Linked DNA regions of Homo sapiens. The protein of the gene in region 3 purifies or fractionates together with the protein of the main gene of each other region. This does not show direct contact. Each region holds a gene or a part of one and is shown on either strand. Other genes may lie near its edges.

Region 1 (3,938 bases), on a different chromosome or scaffold from region 3:
TTAAGAAAATCTTTCAGAAAGCCCAGCAAACAAGAGTCACAAACATGTGTACTTCACAAACACAGGCTGGAGGGGTCCCAAGGGAGCCAAGCTTCACTTTCCCCTATAATGACCTTGGCACAGCAGCTGAGACAGAGTCCACACAAACAGCCAGCCAAACAGCAAACCCCATGTTGGGGCACAGCAGCCTTCCTCAGTGCACCACCTGAATACCCCAGCACCCATCCCCACAACCCAGCACTGGCCACAGCAGGGCACAAGTCACACTGCAGGGTAGTTCACGGGAAAAAGGCTGCCTATTACACCTCATACCTCCAGGCCTGGGGGCACAGGGTCAAAGGCCTCCTACTGGGGTGACCTCGCCTCGTGAAACTTCCATGTCCCCAGGATGTGGCTTATGAGACAGCAGAAGAAGATGCAGACCCTGGGGAAAGGCCTCTGAGAGTCTCAGTGCAGCTGGGGCACAGCAGACCAACTGGCCTGGCCTATTACCTCCCCGGGGCCCTCGGAGCTCAAGGTTCTGAAACAAGGACCACCTGAGGCTGGGCCTAGGGGTGCGTGCACAGTCTTACACCTGAGCCATCATCCTAGTAAAGAACAGCATAAAACCAGGCAAAATTTCCAGGAATTTATTGGAAACACAATACAAATTGGTTAGTAGATGGCATCTCCTTACAGACAGACAATCCACACTGTGGTATCATGCTCAGAACGAATTATCCTGCGGAAACACTCATGAGCACAGGTGCGTGCTCTGGGTTAGCTTCCCTGGCAGGGAAAATCAGAGACATAGTGCAGAGGAACAGGAGGGGTGGACAGAAAACTGGGACATGGCCTTCCTGGGGGGAATGGTGAGGAGGGGCTGCTAACTGAGTAAATTCCCCCAAAGGAAAACAGGGACAACAGTAAAGAATAAAGGCTTCCCCCTCCCTCCCCAAAGCCGTTTCCTCTCTAGGCAGAGTAAAACAGAATCTCCAAACACCCACGGGGCAGCTCCTCCACCTCCCCTCGCCAGGGACTTAGGACAGCAGTGGGGCATAAACACCAGGCTCAGACATGACACCGAGTGCACTGAGGCCACGCACAGCCCCACCTGCTTGCCCTCAGCCCCCTGCTCTGCTCTGAGTGGCAGGGGACTGACCCGGTGGGTCGCCTGTCCCAGGCTCCCAGGGCAGCTGCTTCCAACTGGGTTTCACTACTGTGAGGCACCTGCAGGACTCTGGAGGCCAAGAGGAGGGGAGAGGCTGGGGCCCCCTCTCTCTGCCTGGGGAAATGTTTCTGACAAGAATCATGGCTTCTCGAGGCTCCAGCCCCCACCAGACAGGTCCACAGTGTGGCAGGTCCCCCAGTGGCCTTGGCCCCAGGCTCTGGTGACGCGTCCTCCCCTGGTGCCCAGCCAGTCTCAGGATGGGGGCGGCTTGCTGTTGTTGTTCCCCACCTCTGGGTTGCCCCTCACTCCCCTGTTTTGCCTCTCAGCTTTTCTTGTTTTGTGTTAAACAAATCTCTGGATGAAAACCCCCACTTGAAATCCATTTTCCTGGGTGGGCCCTGAGAGATGGAAACTGGGCTGTGCACAAGGGGAATTGTGAAGGGCAGGCTGAAACCTTCCGGCGACACCCTCCAGTCGGCCCTCCTCTCTTGCGCACCTTTAAGAAGTGAAGGGTGGGCAGGCGATGACTGAGCCAGAGGGGGAGATAGCCTGCAGAGCCTGTGTCCTCACCCCAGGGGCATGTCTGCTGGGGGCTGCGCAGACAGTCTCTGCACGTCCACCCATGTGCTCACTGAACCACAGTGACATGCCACTGACACACAGCAGGGACACCATGGCCCCAGAAAGGGAGCGGGTGGCTGGGAAACCCTCTCAGCACCAAATGCTTCCAACGGCAAAGGCACAGACTAGAGGCGCCTCGGCACCCTTCCTCCATTGCCTGGGGGATTCTGTCAGAACGAGGGGGCAGTTTCCAGAGACAAAGGGAGAGCGTGAAGTCTCAGTCAACATCACCCTCCTAGGATGACTGGACTACAGAACCACGAGCTTTACTTACAAGAGGAAGGAAAAGCCTGCTTGGCACACGTGGCTCGAACAAGCTGCGCTTTTCCCAAAGCCAAATGTCAACTGGGTAGATAGGAGGGGCCTCCCTTCTCCTGCTTCAGACCTGGCCTGACTCCTGTCTCCAAATCTCTTGGGCCTGGGTGAGAGGGCCTCTCCCAAAAGGCAGAGAAAATGAAGCTGGCAGCTGAGTCACGGGCAGCTAATTGTTTCCAGAATCTGCAGTCACCACTTAGTAGGGGTTCAGAGAGAAAGTGAAAGGGTGAGGGAATCATTTCCCCTTCTGGGTCCAAGTACGACAATAAATCCAGAGCAGGGTACAGACAGACAGCTTTCCTGTGTCTTTTTCTTTAGGGAAGAAACATCCACGTGATGCGGCACCTCCTCCCAGGTCTTTGCTGAAGGGACCCCTCAGTGGGAACCCTGAGGAGAACCCCTGCCTGCCACCTCCACCCCTCTCACCAAATGCTTCTGACACAGGCCCCACCCTCAGCGCCCCAAGCCAAGACCCAGCACAGCTCCAAGAGTGGGTGGTGGTGGAGACATCCCATGCTCGCCCTTGCAGAAGCCTAAGATGAGAACCAACTCCTCCTCAGAAAAGAAGCTGAGATGTCTGCAAAACCGCCCTCCACCTCACACAGCACGCTCTCTCTGCCAAGCGGAGCTCAGCCTCCGAGGACACAGACATCTACAGCATCATTATCCTTACCAAGTTACCTCGTGCTTCCCAGGGTGTCAATTCAATTGTAGCCACTCTGTCTTGCAACAGCTTGGCTATTTGGGCCTCTCGTATCTGCCATCCAGCTGCCTCCTAGTAACCCCAGAGATGGCTGGGAGATCAGACTCCAGTTGTCTTTCTTGGGACTGTGACCCTGTGCCTGCAAACAGAGGGCAGGGGAGTTGCCAGCCTCACATCTGCTCAGGGAGCTCATCGGGCGCTGAGCTATTCCTATCCTTGCAGCTGCCAGCACAAGTAGCACAGCTACTCAGCACAGCTGAGTGGCCAACTGTGATGCCACCAAGGGCTCGTGCCGAGGGCAGGTGGGAAACACGAAGAGCCCAAGCCAAAGGAGCAGGCAGGTCCCCCGGGGCCTAGGTCACATGTGCTCACAAGATGTTGGGCTGGAGGGGTGGGGGTCATGGGGTTGGCCACACAGACTCATACCCACAAACACAGTTCTCTCACTCCACACCTCTAGGCCAAACAGAGTCTGTCTGCTTAAAATGAAACTAGGTCATTTGTGACCTGCTGTAGGACCCACCTGGCAGCAGTTCTTCATCAGCTGGTTTGGCTGCAAGGGAACAGGGCAGTAAGCAAACGGCTTGTCACAGTGATACACACGCTTGGCACTTTTAACAACTGCTCTTGCTGGAGCTGTCTGTGACCAAGCAGAGCCGGGCAGAACACCAGTTTCTCTCCAACCACAAAACACAGATGATGAGTTTACAGGCTTATCTTTTGTCAGAACCTCGGTAATTCTGTTCCTTGGAGGAGTAGGAGGGAGGGTCACATATAGGAATGCAGAGGGTAAACAGCAAATTCCCCCATTTCAAAAAAACAAGGATGAAGCCTATCGAGAAAAAGCTGAGTGACGGTAACAGCAAGGACAGGGAAATACCTTGAACCTCATAAACACTGGCGCATTTCTTAAGAAAAATCCATTCAGAAAGATGCCATGGCCCTCCTGTACATATTTAGTAACTATACAGCATAAGACCGAGCTGAGCGGACACATGCAGGGTGGCAGCGGCTCTGAGCTTGCAGCAGCCCCACTGCCAAGTGGCCGCTGTTGCTGGGTGGGGCGCAGGGCGCTGCAGAAGGGAGGAGGTGGAGGGGTTCCCTCAGCCCCTCAATTCTCAGCAGGTCTCGCTCCGTAACAGCGAGGTC
Region 2 (7,123 bases), on a different chromosome or scaffold from region 3:
TATAATTTCAAATTTCAGAAGATCTAAAATAAATTTAAATATTTATATACTTAAATTTCCAGTTCTCAGAATTGGAACTTTATTCTCCATGAATATTCTAATTATAATATTTTAAAAGTCAGGATTATTTTATGTGACAGATAAAATTACAGTGATGTTAAAGGATACACTTAAACATAGTAATTAAAACCCTTGTCTCTTGGGTCAAGTGCATAATAGCCTATATGACCTTAGGCAAGTTGCCTAACCTCTCAGCCTCAGTTACCTAACCCATAAATTGAGGATATTATTACTACCTACTGCATAGGGTACACTGTTAAAATATTTAAAAGATAAGATACACATAAACTGTTTATTTAGGTGCCTGGCACATATGTAGTTAATAAATAAGTTCCAAATATTTTTTTAAATAAAACTTCTTTATATACATGGATACACATAGTGAGTTCTCAATTATGGAAACAAGATTTTCCATAAAAACAATTCTAGGCTGGGCTCAGTGGCTCACGCCTGTAATCCCAGCACTTTGGGAGGCCGAGGTGGGCAGATCGCGAGGTCAGGAGTTCAAGACCAGCCTAGCCAACACGGTGAAACCCCGTTTCTACTAAAAATACAAAAAAAAAAAAATAGCCAGGTATGGTCTGGCGCCTGTAATCCCAGCTACTCGGGAGGCTGAGGCAGGAGAATCGCTTGAACCCGGAAGGCGCAGGTTGCAGTGAGCCAAGATCGCGCCACTGCACTCCAGCCTGGGCAACAAGAGTGAAACTCTGTCTCAAAAGAAACAAAAAAAAAACTATAGGTCAGTAGTCAATTCAATATCTCTAAGTTCCTTTTAAAACACAAATCTGATGTTATCAGTAAAAATGAAGGACAAGGATGTTTCAGAAAACTACACAATATATTATCCGGGCCACAAAAGAAACATCTTTGATTAGAAACATCAAGCCTAGACCCTATGCCATTTTAAAGTATGACTTTAAAACACATCTTTCTGCCACTCTACCACAAACCCCCATACTGAGGCCTTTCCTCAAGCTATTACAGCATAGGATTACATACCACAGCTTAACTTTACATGGTTAATGTTACTATTTTTCCAAGAACTTACCATGATGCCAAAAAAAAAAAATACAGATTTTTAAAATTCCTCTATCTATTCACAAGAGATTAAGCAACAATCAAGACACCAAAAAAAAAAGACTGCTCAGTAGCTCACACCTGCAATCCCAGCACTTGCGGAGGCCAAGGCAGGAGAATTGCTGGAGCCCACAAGTTTGAGACCACCTTGGGCAAGAGGGAGACCCTGTCTCTACAAAATGTTTAAAAATTAGCCAAACGTGGTGGTAAATATCTGTGGTCCCAGCTACCTGGGAGGCTAAGATGGAAGGACTGCTTGAGCCAGGGAGGTTGAGTCTACAGTGAGCCCTGTTCACAACCACTGCAAACTCCAGCCTAGGCAAGAGTGAGACCCTGACTCGAAAAAAAAAAAAAAAAAAAGAGAGAGAAGGAAAAAAAACAACAAAATAATCAAGATACAAAAGATGTTGGAAGTAAAAAGAACATTTACTGTGCAATTATTGTGTGCAAAACACCTATGCTTTAGAAATTATCTAAATTATCACTCAACAGAAAGGAAAGGAGCTTCTGAAAAATTAAGTAACTTGATCAAGATTTCACAACTACTGACAGGACCTACAGAGAAATTCATACCTGATTCCAAAACACTATCTAAAAATATATGTCCCCTCCCAAAAATAATGTTTAAAAACATGCTCCACTTATTCAAAACCTCCGCTGCTTAAAACCTCAGGAAGCAGTTGCTATCACGGTAAAAATCTGATCAGTTCAATCCATTTTATTTTTTTGAGACAGCATCTTGCTATATTGCCCAGGCTGGACTTGAACTCCTGGTCTCAAGAGATCCTTCTGCCTCAGCCTCCTAAGTACCTGGGATTACAAGCACGCACTACTACTGTGCCTAGCTTCAGTTTTATTTTTTAATTTCTATTCTAACTCAGGAATAAAACACATTCCTTTGCTAAAATATGGAAGAACAATTATTTTCTAGTACAATAATTGGAAAAATGCCAAAATAGGGAAGAACAAAATGATTTTCTAGTACAATGAATTAACTGAAAAAATATGAACAAGATCTCAGGAGTCAGAGTGAGAATGCTATTCGTGAGGGCACAGAAACCAGCCCCATCTGAATAATGTCAAGGATGAGGAGAAAAATACAAAATGTGGCCAATTTAGACTCGAAAGAGGAATTTGACTTAATAACCAAGAAACACCACACGTTTTGCAAAATTGAAGGAATAAAGGGACAAAGATTCTTCCCTGAGTTTTCAACAAATTGAAATTAATACCTAGAGGAAGAATAGACGTTACCTGAAATTATGGAATGTAAAAGTAATATATACCTATGATTATTTTATGTTCCAATTTTTTAAATAATGAAAATATTACAGTATGAAAATTGTCCATAAGTACTGGAAAACTTTATATCAAGAGCAAAATAAGACTCAAATTCATCAGTAGTTAGCTTTCCGATTATTTTTTTCCTCCTGTGTTATGATGTATATTTTGGCCAACCGATCTGCTTTAAGTTAGCACTTTCCCTCTTAGGTAGGTAAAAAGAAAAGAGAGCAATCTACTGCTAGTAACTTGGATTAAGAGGCTTGATAACAAAGTATACTGAAATTATTGGAAATGCTTTCAAATTAATGTAATTTTATCAATAACTACCTCTTAATTGGAGCCAATAATTGAGATCTAAAAATATAGAAATCACAGTTATTGTCCTTTAGACACAAGTTCTGAGAAAGTCATGAACTTGAAAAACTTCAACCCATTATACACTTCAAAATTAGTGATTCAAAAAAAAGAAAAAAATTTAGTGATTCAAATGAGTTATTAATTACCATTCCATTTACAAGAAGATATATATGTCACTGTTGCCTTTAAACAGTTTTCAGCTTCCAATATACAGGATCATCTCAGTTTATGAAGCAAAGGTGTTTTTGCAGTTTTTTAAAGTATATATATTGTCATACCTTTGCGGTTAAAAAGAAATTGTTATTTAAAGGACTACTGTGGAACACATACTTCTGAAATACAAATAATTATTCTGTCTTAGCAGTAAGTAGATGTCAAACTGTATCAGGCAGTAAAATAGAATAGTGAGGAATGTTTCCTAAAAGGTAGTCTTGAGCTTAATTTAATCTGGGGGTGGGGGGGAATGAACATTTATTAAGTGTCCACTATGTTCCAAGCCCCAGAAATAGAACTAGTAACAACAGCCACCATTTCCTCAGCTCTTACGCTTGCTACAAGGCACTGTACCAATACTTCCTATGGATTCACTCATTTAATTCTCCTCTTAACCTATGAGGTTAATAAAAGCGTATTCCAAAAACGTGAGATAACTGGAATATCTATTTAAGATTACAAGAGTTAGAATCAATAAGACTAGCAAGGCTTAGAAAGCCAAAAAATACAGCTTGAAGCATAACAGAAGCTGAGAGCAAATAAGTACCATGGAGCTGGTTTTGCTAGTAGACAGCCAATGTGCAGCCTTCCAGAAATTTAGTTATAACCCAGACAACTAAATTAAATCACCACAGTTAATAATTAGCAGGAAAAGAAATTACAGGTATTTAAGAATTTACATTTCAGTTATTTCAGTAGTTAACATTGGAACAATTTCAGGGATTTTTTTCTGTTCAAGTTAAGTTTGGGTCAGGATCCAGATGTATGGAATTTGGAAAAACCTTCCAAGAGGATTCTATTATGTATCCCTGGCTAGGAACCACTGATCTCCTCACTTTGTAAGTAACCTACAGCCCAGAAATGTTAAATAACTTGTTCAAACTAAAAAAAAAGTATCAGAGCATTATCTAGAATCTAGCTCTCTCAACTCACAGAATATTCTGCAAGTACGGAAAATGTTTAGAAAATAAGTGAAGTTTAGAGGTTATATGCCTGCAAGAAGAGCATTACTATTTTATACTCTAACACAGTCATGCATTGCTTAATGTCATCAGATGATTTCATCATTGTGTGAACATCAGAGCGTACTTACATAAACCTAGATGGTATAGCCTACTATACACCCAGGGTACATGGGATATAGCCTACTGCTTTCATGCTACAAACCCGTACAATGAGAATACTGCAGGCAATTGCAACATAATGGTATGTATTTTTGTATCTAAATGTATCTAAACATAAAAAAAAACAGTAAGAATACAGTGTTATCTTATGGGACTACTGTGTATAGGCAGTCCATCATTTCAGTGTTATGTGAAATATCATTATGCAGAATGACTGTATTTTGTTATCTTTATACAGATGCTCCTCAACTTAACAATAGGGTTACATTCCAATAAACCTATCTTTAATTGAAAATATCATAAATCAGCCAGGTGCGGTAGCTTACACCTGTAATCCCAGTACTTTGGCAGGCTGAAGCGAGTGGATTGCTCGACCCCAGGAGACAGAGACCAGCCTGGGCAACACGGTGAAACCCCAACTCTATCAAAAAAAATACAAAAATTAGCCTGGCATGGTGGCATGTGCCTATAGTCCCAGCTACTCAGAAGGCTGAGGTGGGAGGATCGCCTGAGCCAGGAGGCAGAGGCTGCAGTGAGCTGAGATCGTGCCATTGTACTCCAGCTTGTATGACAGAGCTAGACCCTGTCTCCAAAAAAAGAGAAGAAATGCATTTAACACACCTAACCTACCTAACATCATAGTTTAGCCTAGCCTACCTTAAACACTTACATTAGACTACAGTTGAGTAAATTATCTGGTAATACAGTACACTGCAGAGTATCAGATCACAAGAAAGTATCATACCACTTCCTACTGCATGCCATAGCTTTTGTGCCAACAAGAAGTCAACAAATTGTTAAGTCAAACCATCACAAGTTGGGGACCCTCTGTATATCCTACTGAATAAAAACTCTGCAATCTGAAATAGTAACTAGTTAGTTTCTGTCACTGGCTGCCTGAAGTTTCTATTCATACTTCAAAACCAAGTACAAATGTGACTCTCCTCTTTACCATCTCTCCCAGATTATAATCCTTAATTCCCTTCTCAAGACTCCGACAATCCTACTTACACACTGCATTTTAGTTAAATATCTATACATCTCTCTCCCCACTAAGACACTAATTTCTTGGCACTAGAGACTTCATCTTAATTTACCTCTATTTCCCTCATGCCAGGGAACACATTCAATAAACGAAGAGTAAATGAATAAATTAAAAGGGAAAACCTCAATATTTGAGAGTAACTGAAAGAATAGCTCATATGATGGCTTATAAAACAGTTTTAAAGATGCAATTTTATTACTATCTAAAATAGTCAACTATGCAATAACAAAGCATTTTCCAGTATGGGTTCTTCTACTTAAAACAAGAGAATCATTTCAAACTGGCACATATACAACCCTACTTACAAACTAACAATTCAGTAGCTTATAAAGTTATAAAGATGGGCAGACAGTGAATTTTTGAAGTCACTCATTTATGTTATGTTTGAGTTTTTGACAATAAACATATATTCCTCTGGTAATCATTAAAAAATTTTAAAGTTACTTAACAATTCCATAAAGGAAACAAAAGATGGATTATTTATCATTGCTACTTAAAAATTAAAAATAATTATTTTCCTAAGCATCTCTGGAACACGCTTCTGCATCTGATTGACCAAAAGAGAAAATAACACCCTAAGTGGAAACAAATACAATACTGAAAGGGAAGACTAAAACCAGTTCCCCTCCCTTTACCCTGCACTGCTCCCTTCACAAACATCTTTTCTTCCCCCACTAAATAAGCAGATACTGGCTAAAGACTTTCAATTTTACAATGCTAGTCCTGTTAAACTTTTCCTTAGAAAATAAATTTATCCAAAATAATGAGAAAAGGATAGGGAAAAAAAGAAAAATATTCCTCTAATGTTTTTAAAGAAGTAAAACTGCATTTAAACCACCACAATACTCCACTTTAAAAAGTTTGTAATAGTTGTATGGGTTTTTTTTTTTTTCTCATTCTCTGACCTTTACAGTACAGGCAGAAATTTAACAGGAGGAAAAGACGCAAGTATTAACTAAGATCTTTTTAATACAGAGATTAATCTCATGTTGGTAATGGTGGAGGAAAAGAAAGGAGAAGGAAAAAAAGAAGAGAGTAAACCACACACACAAAAATTTAACTGAGCAAAATGTTTTCTTTGGGTATTTGGCAGTTTTGTTGAACAGTTATACAATTTCAGAAAAACAATGTTGCCCAAAAGAGATGCTCAGATTCCTAAATACTATTTTCACATATTACCATCCTCTACCTTCAGAAGCAATTCTGTGAAGTATGTAGGGCAGGCATTATGCTCCCTACATTACAGAAAACTAAACTGAGTTCAGTTATTGTTTAAAATGAAACATAATTTCTACTCTACTACTTCACCATAAAATCATAAAGATAGAGCTGGAATAGACTTTAGTGTTCCTTTTACAGTTAATTTTCCCCATTTTACAGATGAGGAAAAGTGAAGCTCAAGAAAGTCAAATTACTAACCAATGTTAGAGAACTCTCAGTGACAGAATGAAGATTGGAATGCAAGTCTCTTAACTTCTGGCCCAGTGCTCTTAATCCCACCACCACACAAGTTGCCATGCTGGAACCTTTAAAAATGTTACAAATCTCTACATGAGTGAGTCACATTATTAGGTCTGCAAAAGGGAAACCATATATTTAAAAACAAAAAAAAAGGAATTAAGCAACAAATAAATTTAAATGTAAAGCTACCAACAACCTTCAAGTCTTTTCCCTAAAATCCGCTTTTATGTGTTCCTACATCCTCCGTCAAACTACAAGTTCCCTAAAATTCCCATAAATTGTAAATATTAAGATCTCAAAATTTTTGACTGATGAAATTAAAAAAAAAAAACATTCTTCAGTAATCATGCTCCAACTTCCCTAATAAGCGCCAAAGCATATTACTGACAATAATAAGTTATTTTACTTAACTATTTTTCATTGTATATGTTCACTAAAATATCATTTCCACTGTATACTTCCAATTGAAACAGAGTAATTAGATCTGGTAGACAATCTAATG
Region 3 (6,215 bases):
AACTGCAGGTCCACCTCCCGGGTTTACACCACTCTCCTGCCTCAGCCTCCCGAGTAGCTGGGACTACAGGCACCCACCACTATGCCTGGCTAATTTGTTGTATTTTTTAGTAGAGACGGGGTTTCCCCGTGTTAGCCAGGATGGTCTTGATCTCCTGACCTTGTGATCTGCCTGCCTCGGCCTCCCAAAGTGCTGGGATTACAGGCATGAGCCACTGCACCCGGCCCAATTTTTTTTTTTTTTTTTTTGAGACAGAGCCTCACTCTGTCTGGCCAGGCTGGAGTACAGTGGCACAATCCTGGCTCACTGTAGCGCCTGCCTCCTGGGTTCAAGTGACTCTCCTGCCTCAGCCTTCTGAGTAACTGGAATTACAAGCGCCTGCCACCGTGCCCTGCTAATTTTTGTATTTTTAGTAGAGATGCAGTTTCACAACATTGGCCAGACTGGTCTCAAACTCCCAACCTCCAGTGATACTCCTGCCCTGGCCTCCCAGAGTGCTGGGATTATAGGCCTGAGAAACCACGCCTGGCCCCAAACAAATTGCTTTAAGACGAGGTCTCCCTATGTTTCCCCACTGCACTTGAACTCCTGGGCTCAAGCCATCCTCCTGCTGTGGCTCCTGAGTAGCTGGGACTACAGACTCAAGCCACCACGCCTGGCCACATTCCACAATTTAGAGAAAGTGCACAACCTGGAATCCTAGGGAGACCCCGATTCACCTCAAAACTGCCACTAAGGAGGTAAAACGCTGCCCCTCTGAGGCAGGCTTCAGTTTCCCTGTGTGTGAAATTGACCTGGCGCTGGGAGAGGCTGGTGGAGGCGCGGATTTTGCAGTTTCCCTACAACATTCTGGAAGCCTGTGGTTCTGGGAAAGGTTGGCGTGGAGAAGACTGGGAAACAACCAGTGGTCACCAGAGCTGTAGCACCTCCTCCACCTCCGAGCTCTGGGGCTGGGAACCCCAGGCTTCGGGGCCCCTGTGGAGGACGCAGGTGGCCCCCTCTTTCCTGACATCTCAGGAGAGGGAGGGGCAACCGGCTAGCAGAAGAAAAGCACAGGAAGGTTATACAGCCAGGTGGGGAAGGGGCCAAATCCCTGAACAACCCCTTCCCAGAGTTCCTCTTCAAGTGCAGGGTACCCAAGAGTCAAGGCCCCGCCCCCTTTCCAGAGGCCCCTTTTCTACCCAGGTGATGGGTCCTAGCTGGGATGGGAGGCAGATGGACGGAGGGGAGGGGGGAGGAGGGGAAGGGAGAGGCAGTGGATGAAGGAGGATGGAAGAGATGACATCCCCCTCGGCCCATTCATCCCATTCAGGTCCCCAAGCCGCGCCCCTCTCCGCCCCACCTGCACTGCCAGTGCCAACATCAGAGGGAGGAAGAGGGAGCTCGGCTTAGAAGGCTGAGGCCCTGCCACCTGGGCCACACCGATCACGTGGCCTTCCTTCTCCCCACAGAAGGCCAGACCATGGACACCTCCTGAGCTGGAGGTCATCCTGCATCTCCACCCTGTTTTCTTTTTCTTTCTTTCTTTCTTTTTTTTTTTTTTTTTGAGATGGAGTCTCGCTCTGTCGTGGAGGCTGGAGTGCAGTGGCGCGATCTCTGCTCACTGCAAGCTCCCCCTCCTAGGTTCACTCCATTCTCCTGCCTCAGCCTTCCAAGTAGCTTGGACTACAGGGGCCCGCGACCAAGCCCAGATAAGTTTTTGTATTTTTAGTAGAGACGGGGTTTCACCGTGTTAGCCAGGAAGGTCTCGATCCCCTGACCACATGATCCGCCCGCCTGGGCCTCCCAAAGTGGTGGGATTACAGGAGCGCAGCACCACGCCCAGCTAATTTTGGTATTAACAGTAGAGATGTTGTTTCACAGTGTTGGCCAGGCTGCTTTTGAACTCCTGACCTCAAGTCAAACACCCGCCTCAGCCTCCCAAAGTGCTGGGACCACAGGTGTGAGCCATAGTGCCTGACCTGTAGTTGTTGAATATTTATTATTAATCTACAAGTTGGGTGTGATGCAAGTCCCATACATGGAGTCCCCCAAACTTCTAGAGCAAGGGCTTCCCCATAATCCTGGCAGGCAGGCCTCCCCTGGGGTTCCCAACTTCTGACCTCACTGAAGTGTTTATCCTCTTCTCTAATCCCAGCCTCCTTTTCCCTGTTTCCATGTCCTCTGAGAGATGCTCCCGCTCCCCCAGGCTCCCTCTGCATCCCCCTCATTTGCTTCCTCCCCAGTGTGTCAATGGAGTCCTAACCCCCACCCTTGACATTGTCCCCTTTTCCTCCTCCAGAGTGGGACCTTATTTTCCCCCAAGTGGTCCTGTCTAGGGGTGCCGCTGCCGGGCCCCCTCTGGTCTTCCTGCTGGAGACTGGGGCCTTTTGGGAGTCAGCAGGCACCCGGGCCAACCGCAGCCAGCGAGGGGTGAGCGATACTTCACCGGCGAGTCATCAGGGTGAGCTGGCCGTGTGCGATGCAGTCAGTGTCTGGGTGACAGACCCCCGGACCGCTGTGGACTTGGTTGTGCTCGAGGTGGAGGTGTTGGGTGAGGTGCCTGCAGCTGGCAGCAGTTCCCTCCACCAACACTTCTTTGTCACCTGCTTCAAGGCCGATAACTCTGAAGAAGGTGGCCCAGGGGTAGGTGGAGGGGCTGCCGCTGGGGTGTGGACCGGGGGGCACTGGGTGTCTGAGTGCAAGGCCAAGCAGTCCTATGTGCGGGCATTGACCGCTGATGCCCAGGGCCGTGTGGACTGGCGATGGATTCAAACTGGCACAGCCTGTGTCTGCACACTCCTCAGCCGGACTGGCCGGGCCTGAGACTTATACCCAGGAACTGGTCAGGCAGAAAAAGAACAGAGCTGGATGCTGAGAGACCTCAGGGTTGGCCCAGCTGCTCTACGGACGGACCCCAGTTGGGGAACTCATCAAATCATCGCAAAATCACAACTCTCTGAATTTGAGCTCAATCTCTGTAGGATGGGTGCAACAACGTGGGGTTTTGAAGGTTGAATAGGAGCTCTCCCAGGGGAACTTGAGGGTAATCATGATGATGATGATAATAATAATAGCCACTATTTACTGAGTGTTTACTCTTTCGTAGCCCTAATACATAACTCCTCGGATCAACTCTCATGGATTTGATCATTGGTGACCTTTGGTGTTAAGTTGCTGACTGCTCAGTCACAGAGGACACCACCTTGCTCATCCTGGGGAGTGGGAGGGCACATTTCACGATGTGCATGGGGGAGGAGGGAAACTGGAACATGCAAGCAGATGGCCAGGGGACCTTGAGGACATGGTCTACAGAAGGCCTTTAAGTATCTGGGAGCTGGGGTTCAAATGAGAAATCTTACTTGGTGAGAGTGGGCAGGGGTCGGCTTAGAATATTTTGTTTTGAGATAAAGAGCTACCGATCACACGGGGAGTATAAGCAAGGTTCAATGAGAAGTGATCAGGATGCTGGAGAGTTCAGCCCTGGGCGGGGAGCTCAAGTCAGGTTTCTAGCCCTCTTCCCTGTGCCAACCTATACCCTACACTGGGAAAGAAACAGACCTTAAAATTGTCCAGCTTGATGGCATCGCGGGGAAGGGACTAAGTCCAGATAATGTCCTCTGAGGCTGAGGCCTCGGGGGCAGGACACACCTCCTGCGGGCCTATTCAATAATCAGTTAAATCACCTGAAGCACACGCATTTCCGGGGACCGCTCCGGGCATCCTGGCTTGAGGGTAGAGTGGGCAGAGGTCCCTAAGGGAGAGGTGGGGCTCGGGCTGAATCCCTCGTTGGCGGCACCAGGGTCAAGTGGCTAACCTGGCAGCACAGTCACGGGGAGGCCCTCTCTCATTGGGCAGAAACTAAGTCCGAAGCCGCGCCCCTCCTGGGCGAGGAGGTTCCACCTCCTAGGTTCCTGTGATTCTCCTGCCTCAGCCCGAGTAGTGGGACATCCCACTTGCTCCCGCCATTCTGTTTACCACAGGTGACGACCGCCATGGCTGACAGGCAGGGAGGTCCCCCGAGGACCGAGCAAGCCTCGGTCTCCCAAAAAAAAAAAAGATACATTGAAGTAATTTAAAAACACTTAGGAAGATGTCATTTCTTCCTATCAAGGCGTCCTCCCTTTATGTTTTGTTATTATATAGGGAACGATAAAAAAATTTTTTTCTCAACCAATGTGGACCCGGTTGGCCTCGAACTCGTACCCTCGAACCCTCCCCTCCCTGAGGGCCCGAGGGCACGCGCAACCGGTCGGAGCCACAATAGCTCGGGGTGTCGGGGATCTCCTTTCTTCCTTTTGACCTTACGCAGGGTGATGGAGCCAATCAGGAGAGGCTCACCCCTGACGTCACCCAGTCCCCAGGGCCAGTGAGGGCCCTGCGTTCCGTGGCGCCCCCTGGAGGGAGGAAGGGGAACTGTATCTGAGAGAGAGCAGCCAATTGGGTCCGCTGACTCCGGCCGGGTTCCCGTGCCGCGTCCAACACCCCTCACTCCCTGTCTCACTCCCCCACGGAGACTCAATTTACTTTCCATGTCCACATCCCCAGTGCTTGCGGAAGATATCCCGCTAAGAGAGAGACATGTCAAAGGTAGGGTAGATCGACATTTCCAGGCACCAAAGATGGAGATGTTCCAGGAAAGACTGCAGGGCCCCTGGGCACCTTCCACCTGCTTCCAGGCCATCACTGGCATGAGAAGGGGCAGACCAGTGTGAGCTGTGGAAGGAGGCCTCTTTCTGGAGGAGCGTGACCCCCAGTAAGCTTCAGGTGGGGCAGTTCCTGAGGGTGGGGATCTAAAATGTTGGGGTATCTGAGATCCTCTGGGCTGTGGGGTGGGCTCTGAAAGGCAGGTGTCCGGGTGGTGGGTCCTGAATAGGAGATGCCACGAAGGGTCTCTGGGTCTTTGTGGGTGGTGTACCACGCGGGATGGGAAGGCCAGGACTCGGGGCTGCGGTCTCAGACCCGGGTGAAGCAGTGTCCTTGTCCCAGGGGCTGCTGCTGTTGCTGCTGCTGAGCATGGGCGGGACATGGGCATCCAAGGAGCCGCTTCGGCCACGGTGCCGCCCCATCAATGCCACCCTGGCTGTGGAGAAGGAGGGCTGCCCCGTGTGCATCACCGTCAACACCACCATCTGTGCCGGCTACTGCCCCACCATGGTGAGCTGCCCGGGGCCGGGGCAGGTGCTGCCACCTCAGGGCCAGACCCACAGAGGCAGCGGGGGAGGAAGGGTGGTCTGCCTCTCTGGTCAGGGGCTGCGGAATGGGGTGTGGGAGGGCAGGAACAGAGGGCTTCCTGGACCCCTGAGTCTGAGACCTGTGGGGGCAGCTGGGGAGCTCAGCTGAGGCGCTGGCCCCAGGCACATGCTCATTCTCCCACTCACACGGCTTCCAGACCCGCGTGCTGCAGGGGGTCCTGCCGGCCCTGCCTCAGGTGGTGTGCAACTACCGCGATGTGCGCTTCGAGTCCATCCGGCTCCCTGGCTGCCCGCGCGGCGTGAACCCCGTGGTCTCCTACGCCGTGGCTCTCAGCTGTCAATGTGCACTCTGCCGCCGCAGCACCACTGACTGCGGGGGTCCCAAGGACCACCCCTTGACCTGTGATGACCCCCGCTTCCAGGCCTCCTCTTCCTCAAAGGCCCCTCCCCCCAGCCTTCCAAGCCCATCCCGACTCCCGGGGCCCTCAGACACCCCGATCCTCCCACAATAAAGGCTTCTCAATCCGCACTCTGGCGGTGTCTTTCTGTGGGCTCAGGGCAACCACACACACAGGGTGGGTCCAGCTTCCAAACCATTTTATACAGAGTCACAGTACAGAACTCTGGTAGAAAACAGGGTGGACGGCTGGGCGTGGTGGCTCACGCCTGTAATCCCACCACTTTGGGAGGCCGAGGCAGGCGGATCATGAGGTCAGGAGATCGAGACCATCCTGGCTAACACGGTGAAACCCCGTCTCTACTAAAAATACGAAAAGTTATCCGGGCTTGGTGGCGGGCGCTTGCAGGAGAATGCAGTGAACCTGGGAGCGGGAGGTTGCAGTGAGCAGAGATCGCGCCACTGCACTCCAGCCTGCACGACAGAGCGAGACTCCATCTCAAAAAAAAAAAAAAAAGAAAGAAAGAAAGAAAAAGAAAAGAGGGTGGAGATGGGGGATGACATCCAGCTCAGGAGGTGTCCATGGTCTGGCCTTCCGTGGGGAGAAGGAAGGCCACACGATTGGTGTGGCCCAGGGGGCAGGG
Region 4 (7,123 bases), on a different chromosome or scaffold from region 3:
CTAAAAAATATAAAACACTGCTGAAAGAAATTAAATACAAACAAATGGAAAGACATCTTTGTTAATGGATTGGAAGACATAATATTGTTAAGATGACAATACAATCCAAAGCCTTCTAAAGACTCAATGCAATCCCTTTGAAAATTCCAACAGCACTTTGTTTTTGCAAAAATAACCCATTTTAAAATTCATAGGAATCTCCAAGGACCCAGAATAGCCAAAGCAATCTTGAAAAAGATGAACAAAGTTGGAGACTTCACTCCTTTTTATTTCAAAACTTACCATAAAGCTACAGTAATTGAAACAGTGTGGCACTGGCATAAAGAAAGGCATACTGGCCAATTAAACAGAACAAAGAACCCAGACATAAACCTTCACATATGTGGCCAAACAATTTTCAACAATGATGTCAAGATCATTCAATGGAAAAAGAATAGTCTTTTCAACAAATTGTGTTAGGAAAACTGAATATCCACACATACATGAATTATGTTGGACCATTACCTTATATAATATACAGAAAAGTTAATTTGGCCTGGCGTGGTGGCTCACTCCTGTAATCCCAGCACTTTGGGAGGCCGAGTCGGGCAGATCACAAGGTCAAGAGATCGAGACCATCCTGGCTAACACGGTGAAATCCCGTCTCTACTAAAAATACAAAAAATTAGCTGGGTGTGGTGGCGGGGGCCTGTAATCCCAGCTCCTAGAGAGGCTGAGGCAGGAGAATCGCTTGAACCCGGGAGGCGGAGCTTGCAGTGAGCCGAGATTGCGCCACCGCACTCCAGCCTGGGCGACAGAGCAAGGATCTGTCTCGAAAAAAAACCAAACACACACACAAAAAAGAAAAGTTAATTCAAAACAGATCAACGCCTAAACATCGGATCTAAAACTATAAAACTCTTAGAAGAAAACAGGAGAAATGCTTCATGACATCAGATTTGGCAATGATTTCTTGGATATGACACCAAAAACACTGGCAACAACAGAATTAATAGACCAGGTGCTGTTGCTCACATCTGTAATCCCAACACTTTGTGAGGATGAGGTGGGAGGATCACTTGAGCTCAAGAGTTCAAGACTAGCCTGGGCAACACAGCTAGACCTTGTCTCTACTAAAAAATAAAATAAGGCTGGGCGTGATGGCTCATGCCTGTAATCCCAGCACTTTGGGAGGCCAAGGCAGGCAGATCGCTTGAGGTCAGGAGTTCCAGACCAGCCTGACCACCATGCAGAAACCCTATCTCTGCTAAAAATACAAAATTAGCCAGGCGTGGTAGTGGGCGCCTGTAATCCCAGCTTGAGTAGCTTGAGGCTGAGGCAGGAGAACTGCTTGAACACGGGAGGCAGAGGTTGCGGTGAGCCAAGATTGCGCCATTGCACTCTAGCCTGAGCAACAAGACCAAAACTCTGTCTCAAAAAAAAAAAGAAAAAAGAAAAAGAAAAGAAATAAAATAAAAAGTAGCTGCACGTGGTGGCTCACACCTGTAGTCCCAGACACTCAGGAGGCTGAAGTGGGAGGATCGCTTGAGCCCAGGATATCAAAGCTGCAGTGAGCCATGACTGCACCACTGAACTCCAGCCTGGGTAACAGCCTAGGTAACTCATCTCAAAAAATAAATAAACAATAGATAGTACCCAAAGCAATCTACAAATTCAATGCAATCTACAGGTTCAATGCAATCTACAGATTCAAAGCAATCTACAGATTCAATGCAATCTACAGATTCAATGCAGTCTCTATCAAAATACCTACCATATTCTTCATGCAAATAGAAAAAGAAATCCTAAAATTTGTGTGGAACCACAAAAGACTTGGAATAGCAAAAGCTATCCTGAGCAAAAGAACAAGGCTGGAGGCATCACACTACCTGACTTCAGAATATACTACAGAGGCTGGGCATGGTGGCTCCCGCCTGTAATCCCAGCACTTTGGGAGGCTGAGGTGGGCGGATCACCTGAGGGCAGGAGTTCGAGACCAGCCTGGCCAACATGGTGAAACACCGTCTCTGCTAAAAACAAAAAAATTAGCTGGGTGTGGTGGCGCACGCCTGTAATCCCCAGCTACTCAGGAGGCTGAGGCAGGAGAATCGCTTGAACCCGGGAGGCGGAGGTTGCAGTGATCCAAGATTGCGCCATTGCACTCCAGCCTGGGTGACAGAGTGAGACTCCGTCTCAAAAACAAAACAAAACAAAAAAAACTACAGAGATATAGTAACCCAAACAGCACACTATTGTCATAAACACAGACACATAAACCAATGGAACAGAATAGAGCCTGGAAATAAATGCATGCATTTGCAGCCAACTGATTTTTAACAAAGGTGCCAAGAACACACAATGAGAAAAGGATAGGTTCTTCAATAAACGGTGTTGAGAAAACTAGATACACACATACAGAAAAATAATATCAGACCTTGGCTTCTCAACATAGACAAAAATCAACCCGAAATGAATTAAAGACTTAAATGTGGCCAGGTGCGGTGGCTTAGCCTATAATCCCTGCGAAGCCCAGGCAGGGGGATCACCTGAGCTCAGGAGTTTGAGACCAGTCTGAGCAACATGGTGAAACCTTATTTCTACAAAAAAACACAAAAATTAGGCGGTGGCTCACACCTGTAATCCCAACACTTTGGGAGGCTGAGGCAGGAGGATCACTTGAGGTAAGGAGTTTGAGACTAGCCTGGCCAACATGGTGAAACCCTGCCTCCACTAAAAATACAAAAATTAGCCGGGCATGGTGGTGCACACCTGTAATCCCAGCTACTCAGGAGGCTGAGACAGGAGAATCGTTTGAACCTGGGAGACAGAGGTTGCAGTGAGCCAAGATCGCGCCACTGCTCTCCAACCTGGGCGACAGAGTGAGACTCCGTCTCAAAAAAACAAAACAACAACCAACCAAAATTTAGCCAGGCATGATGGTGCACACCTGTAGTGCCAGGTACTGGAGAGGCTGAGGTGGGAGAATTGCTTAAGCCCAAAAGGGCAAGGCTGCAGTAAGCCATGATTGCCCCACTGCATTCCAGCCTGGGTGACAGAACGAGACCTTGTCAAAAAAAAAAAAAAAAAAAAAAAAGGGAGAAGAAACTCCCTAACCATTAGCAGTTATTCTCACTTTTTCTACCCGTTCTTCACTGATCCTCTCTCCCCTGCTTTCTGGCCCCAGGCAATCACCTGTCTACTCTCTGTCTCTGTATATTTGCCTATTCTGGACTTTCCCCCTTGTATCTAACTGTAAATGTGTATCCTTTGACCAACATCTTCCTCTCTCCCCTTCCGCCAGCCACCCCAGCCTCTGGTAACCACCATTCTGCTCTGTTCTTCTGTGGCATCAGCGTTTTCAGATTCCACATGTGAGTGAGATCGTGCAGTACTTGTCTTTCTGTGCCTGGCTTATTTTGAGGAAATAAAGCCTCAAAAGCAAAGGCCACAAAAGAAAAAATAGACAAATGGGATTACATCAAACTAAAAATGTTCTGCACAGCAAAGGAATCAATCAACAAAGTGACAATCTACAGAATGCAGGAAAATATCTGCAAACCATATAACTAATAAGGGATTAATAATGAAAATATACAAAGAATTCAAACAACTCAATTGTAAAAGATCTGAATGGATATTTCTCAAAAGAAGGTGTACAAGTGGCCAACAGGTGTATGAAAAAATGCTCAACATCGCTAATCATCAGGGAATCCAAATCAAAACCACAATGAGCTATCACCTCACACCTGTCAGACTGGCTCTTGTCAAAAAGGCAAAAGATAACAAGTGTTGTCCAGGGTGTGGAGAAAGGGAAACCCTTGTACACTGTTGGTGGAGATGTAAATCAGTATAGCCATTGTAGAAAACAGTGCCGGGGGTTCCTCAAAATATTAAAAATAGAACTACCATATGACCCAGCAACACCACTGTTGGGTATATATCTAAAAGAAATGAAATCCGTATGTCCAAGAGATCGCTGTACCCCATGTTTATTGCAGCACCTTTCACAACAGCCAAGACATGGAATCAACCTAACTGTCCATCAACAGATGAGCAAGGCCGGGCCTGGTGGCTCACATCTGTAATCCTAGCACTTTCAGGAGGAAAGGAGGATTGCTCCAGCCCAGAAGTTCAAGACCAGCCTGGGCAACATAGTGATACCCCATCTCCATTTAAAAAATAATTAAAATTAAAAAAACAAAAACAGGCCGGACACGATGGCTCATGCCTATAATCCCAGTACTGGGAGGCCGAGGCAGATGAATCACTTGAGGCCAGGAGTTCGAGACCAGCCTGGCCAACACGGTGAAACCCCTTCCTCTACTAAAAATGCAAAAAAATTAGTCAGGCTTGGTGGCACCTCCTGTAATCCCAGGTACTTGGGAAGCTGAGGCATGAGAATCACTGGAACCCAGGAGGCGGAGGTTGCAGTAAGCTGAGATCACACCACTGCACTCCAGCCTGGGTGACAGAGTGAGACCCTGTCTCAAAACAAACAAACAAAAACTGGATTATGGTGATGGTTGTTGCACAGCTCCAGAAATCTTCTAAAAATTATTGTATAGTTGTCCCTGAAACAACACGTGTTTGAACCATGCGGGTCCACTTATTTGCAGACTTTTTCCAGTAAAAGTTACACGGTGTATGCCTGCCTCTCTAGCCCCTCCTTCCACCTCCCTCCACTTCTGCCTTTGCCACCCCCAAGACAGCAAAACCAACCCATCCACTTCCTCCTCCTTGGCCTGCTCACTGTGAGCTTTTTGAGGATGGAGACCTTTCTGATGATCCACTTCCACGTGATGAGTAGTCAGTTTATTTCCTCTTCCTCATGATTTTCTTAACAACATTTTCTTTTCTCTAGCTTACTTTATTATGAGAACACAGTATGTAATACATATAACTTACAAAATCTCTGTTAATCAACTGTTTATGTTATCAGTAAGGTTTCTGGTCAATAGCAGGCTATTCGTAGTTTTAACTTTTGGGAAGTCACGTAGTTTTAACTTTTGAGAAGTCAAAAGTTATACTTGTCCAGCCTGGCCAACATGGTGAAATCCCATCTCTACTAAAAATATAAAATTAGCCAGGCATGGTGGCGGGTGCCTGTAATCTCAGCTACTCAGGAGGCCGAGGCAGGAGAATCGCTTGAACCCGGGAGGCAGAGCTTGCAGTGAGCCGAGACAGAGCGAGACTCCGTCTCAAAAAAAAAAAAAAAAAAAAAAAAGGTTAAAGGCCAGGCTCGGTGGCTAACGCCTGTAATCCCAGCACTCTGGGAGGCAGAGGCAGAGGCGGGCAGATCACCTGAGGTCAGGAGGTCGAGATCAGCCTGACCAACACAGTGAAACCCCCTCTCTACTAAAAATACAAAATTAGTGGGAGTGGTGGCGCATGCCTGTAATCCAAGCTACTTGGGAGGCTGAGGCAGGAGAATGGCTTAAACCCAGGAGGCAGAGGTTGCAGTGTGCCAAGATCGTGCCATTGCACTCTATCCTGGGCAATAAGAGCGAAACTCCATCTCAAAAAAAGTTACACTCGGATTTTCAACTGCACAGGGGGTTGGAATCCCTAACCCCCTCGTTCACAGGCCAGCCAAACGTATACTTAAAAGTAGGTGAATTTTATAAAGTAGGTATATTATACCTCAATAAACAAAATTTTTGTTTAAAATTTTTGTTTTTAAAGCATGCTAATATTTTTAAATTGGAATTGGGTTAAATTTATAGATCAATATGAAGAGAACTGATGTCTTTACTATGTTGAGTGTTCCAACCACTGACCATGGTATGTTCCCCCATTTACTTAAATGATCTTTGATTTCTCTCATCTTCAGCATACAGATCCTGTAAGTCTTATTCAATGTATACCTAAGTATTTGATTCCTTTGAAGCAAACGAAATGTTGTGTTTTTAAATTTAATTTTCTTTTTTTTTTTTTGAGACGGAGTCTCGCTCTGTTGCCCAGGCTGGACTGCAGTGGCGCGATCTCGGCTCACCACAACCTCCGCCTCCCGGGTTCAGGCGATTCTCCTGCTTCAGCCTCCTGAGTAGCTGGGACTACAGGCGCACGCCACCATGCCCAACTAATTTTTGTATTTTTAGTAGAGACAGGGTTTCACTATGTTGGCCAGGCTGGTCTCGAACTCCTGCCCTTGTGATCCGCCCGCCTCGGCCTCCCAAAGTGCTGGGATTACAGGCGTGAGCAACCACGCCCAGCCAAATTTAACTTTCTAATTGTACATTGCTAGTACAGTAGTCCCCACTTACCTGTAGTTTCATTATCTGCAATTTCTGTTTCCCCAGTTATAGCTGCCTACAGTCAACTGCCCTCCAAAAATAGGTGAGTGCATACAAAAAGATATTTTGAAAGAGAGAACACATTTATATAACTTTTATTCAGTATATAATTATTCTATATTATGAACAGTTATTGTTGGTAATCTCTTACTGCGCCTAATTTGTAAATTAAGCTTTATCATAGGCATAGATGTATAGGGAAAAAAACCACAGTACACGGAGGGTTCTGTCTTATCTCAGGTTTCAGGCTTCCATTGGAACGTATCGTCCATGGATAACAAGGACTGTTGTAAACAGAAATAAGGTCAGCTTGTATAGTGTTGACTTTGCATGTATCTCCCCATGGATAAGGGGCACTGCTGTATGCAGAAATAAGGTCGCCAGGCCGGGCCCGGTGGCTCACGCCTATAATCCTAGCACTTTGGGAGGCCGAGGCAGGCGGATCACCTGAGGTTGGGAGTTCCAGACCAGCCTGACCAACACGGAGAAACCCCATCTCTACTAAAAACACAAAATTAGCCAGACATGGTGGCACATGCCTGTAATCCCAGCTACTCGGGAGGCTGAGGCAGGAGAATCGCTTGAACCCGGGAGGCAGAGGTTGCGGTGGGCCGAGATCGCACCATTGCACTCTAGCCTGGGCAACAAGAATGAAACTCTGTCTCAAAAAAAAAAAAGAAAAATAAGGTCGCCTTCTGTGTGTTGACTTTGTATCTTGTGACCTTGCTAACCTCATTAATTAGTTCTAGTAGCTTTTTCATAGATTCCCTGGATTTTCTATGTAGATAATCATGTTGTCAGCAAATAGGGACAATTTTCCCTTTCCAATTTGTATGCCTTTTCTTTCTTTG

What was found.
Region 1: the proteins of CGB2 (region 3) and MTA3 purify together in Homo sapiens (affinity purification with mass spectrometry; 2 studies listed by BioGRID and IntAct, with this or other methods). This does not show direct contact.
Region 2: the proteins of CGB2 (region 3) and NCKAP1 purify together in Homo sapiens (affinity purification with mass spectrometry; 2 studies listed by BioGRID and IntAct, with this or other methods). This does not show direct contact.
Region 4: the proteins of CGB2 (region 3) and CYFIP1 purify together in Homo sapiens (affinity purification with mass spectrometry; 2 studies listed by BioGRID and IntAct, with this or other methods). This does not show direct contact.

What each region holds. Positions count from the first base shown.
Region 1 is NC_000002.12:42,753,623-42,757,560, reverse strand, and holds the end of MTA3 (metastasis-associated protein MTA3), read right to left. Parts: 3' UTR 615-3,938; downstream 1-614. UniProt on the Homo sapiens protein: Acts as a component of the histone deacetylase NuRD complex which participates in the remodeling of chromatin.
Region 2 is NC_000002.12:183,028,344-183,035,466, forward strand, and holds part of NCKAP1 (nck-associated protein 1), read right to left. Parts: intron 1-7,123. UniProt on the Homo sapiens protein: Part of the WAVE complex that regulates lamellipodia formation. The WAVE complex regulates actin filament reorganization via its interaction with the Arp2/3 complex. Actin remodeling activity is regulated by RAC1.
Region 3 is NC_000019.10:49,027,536-49,033,750, forward strand, and holds CGB2 (choriogonadotropin subunit beta variant 2 isoform 1 precursor), read left to right. Parts: upstream 1-4,354; 5' UTR 4,355-4,560; coding exon 4,561-4,569; exon of another isoform or gene 4,570-4,735; intron 4,736-4,968; coding exon 4,969-5,136; intron 5,137-5,371; coding exon 5,372-5,686; 3' UTR 5,687-5,703; downstream 5,704-6,215.
Region 4 is NC_000015.10:22,970,263-22,977,385, forward strand, and holds part of CYFIP1 (cytoplasmic FMR1-interacting protein 1), read right to left. Parts: intron 1-7,123. UniProt on the Homo sapiens protein: Component of the CYFIP1-EIF4E-FMR1 complex which binds to the mRNA cap and mediates translational repression. In the CYFIP1-EIF4E-FMR1 complex this subunit is an adapter between EIF4E and FMR1.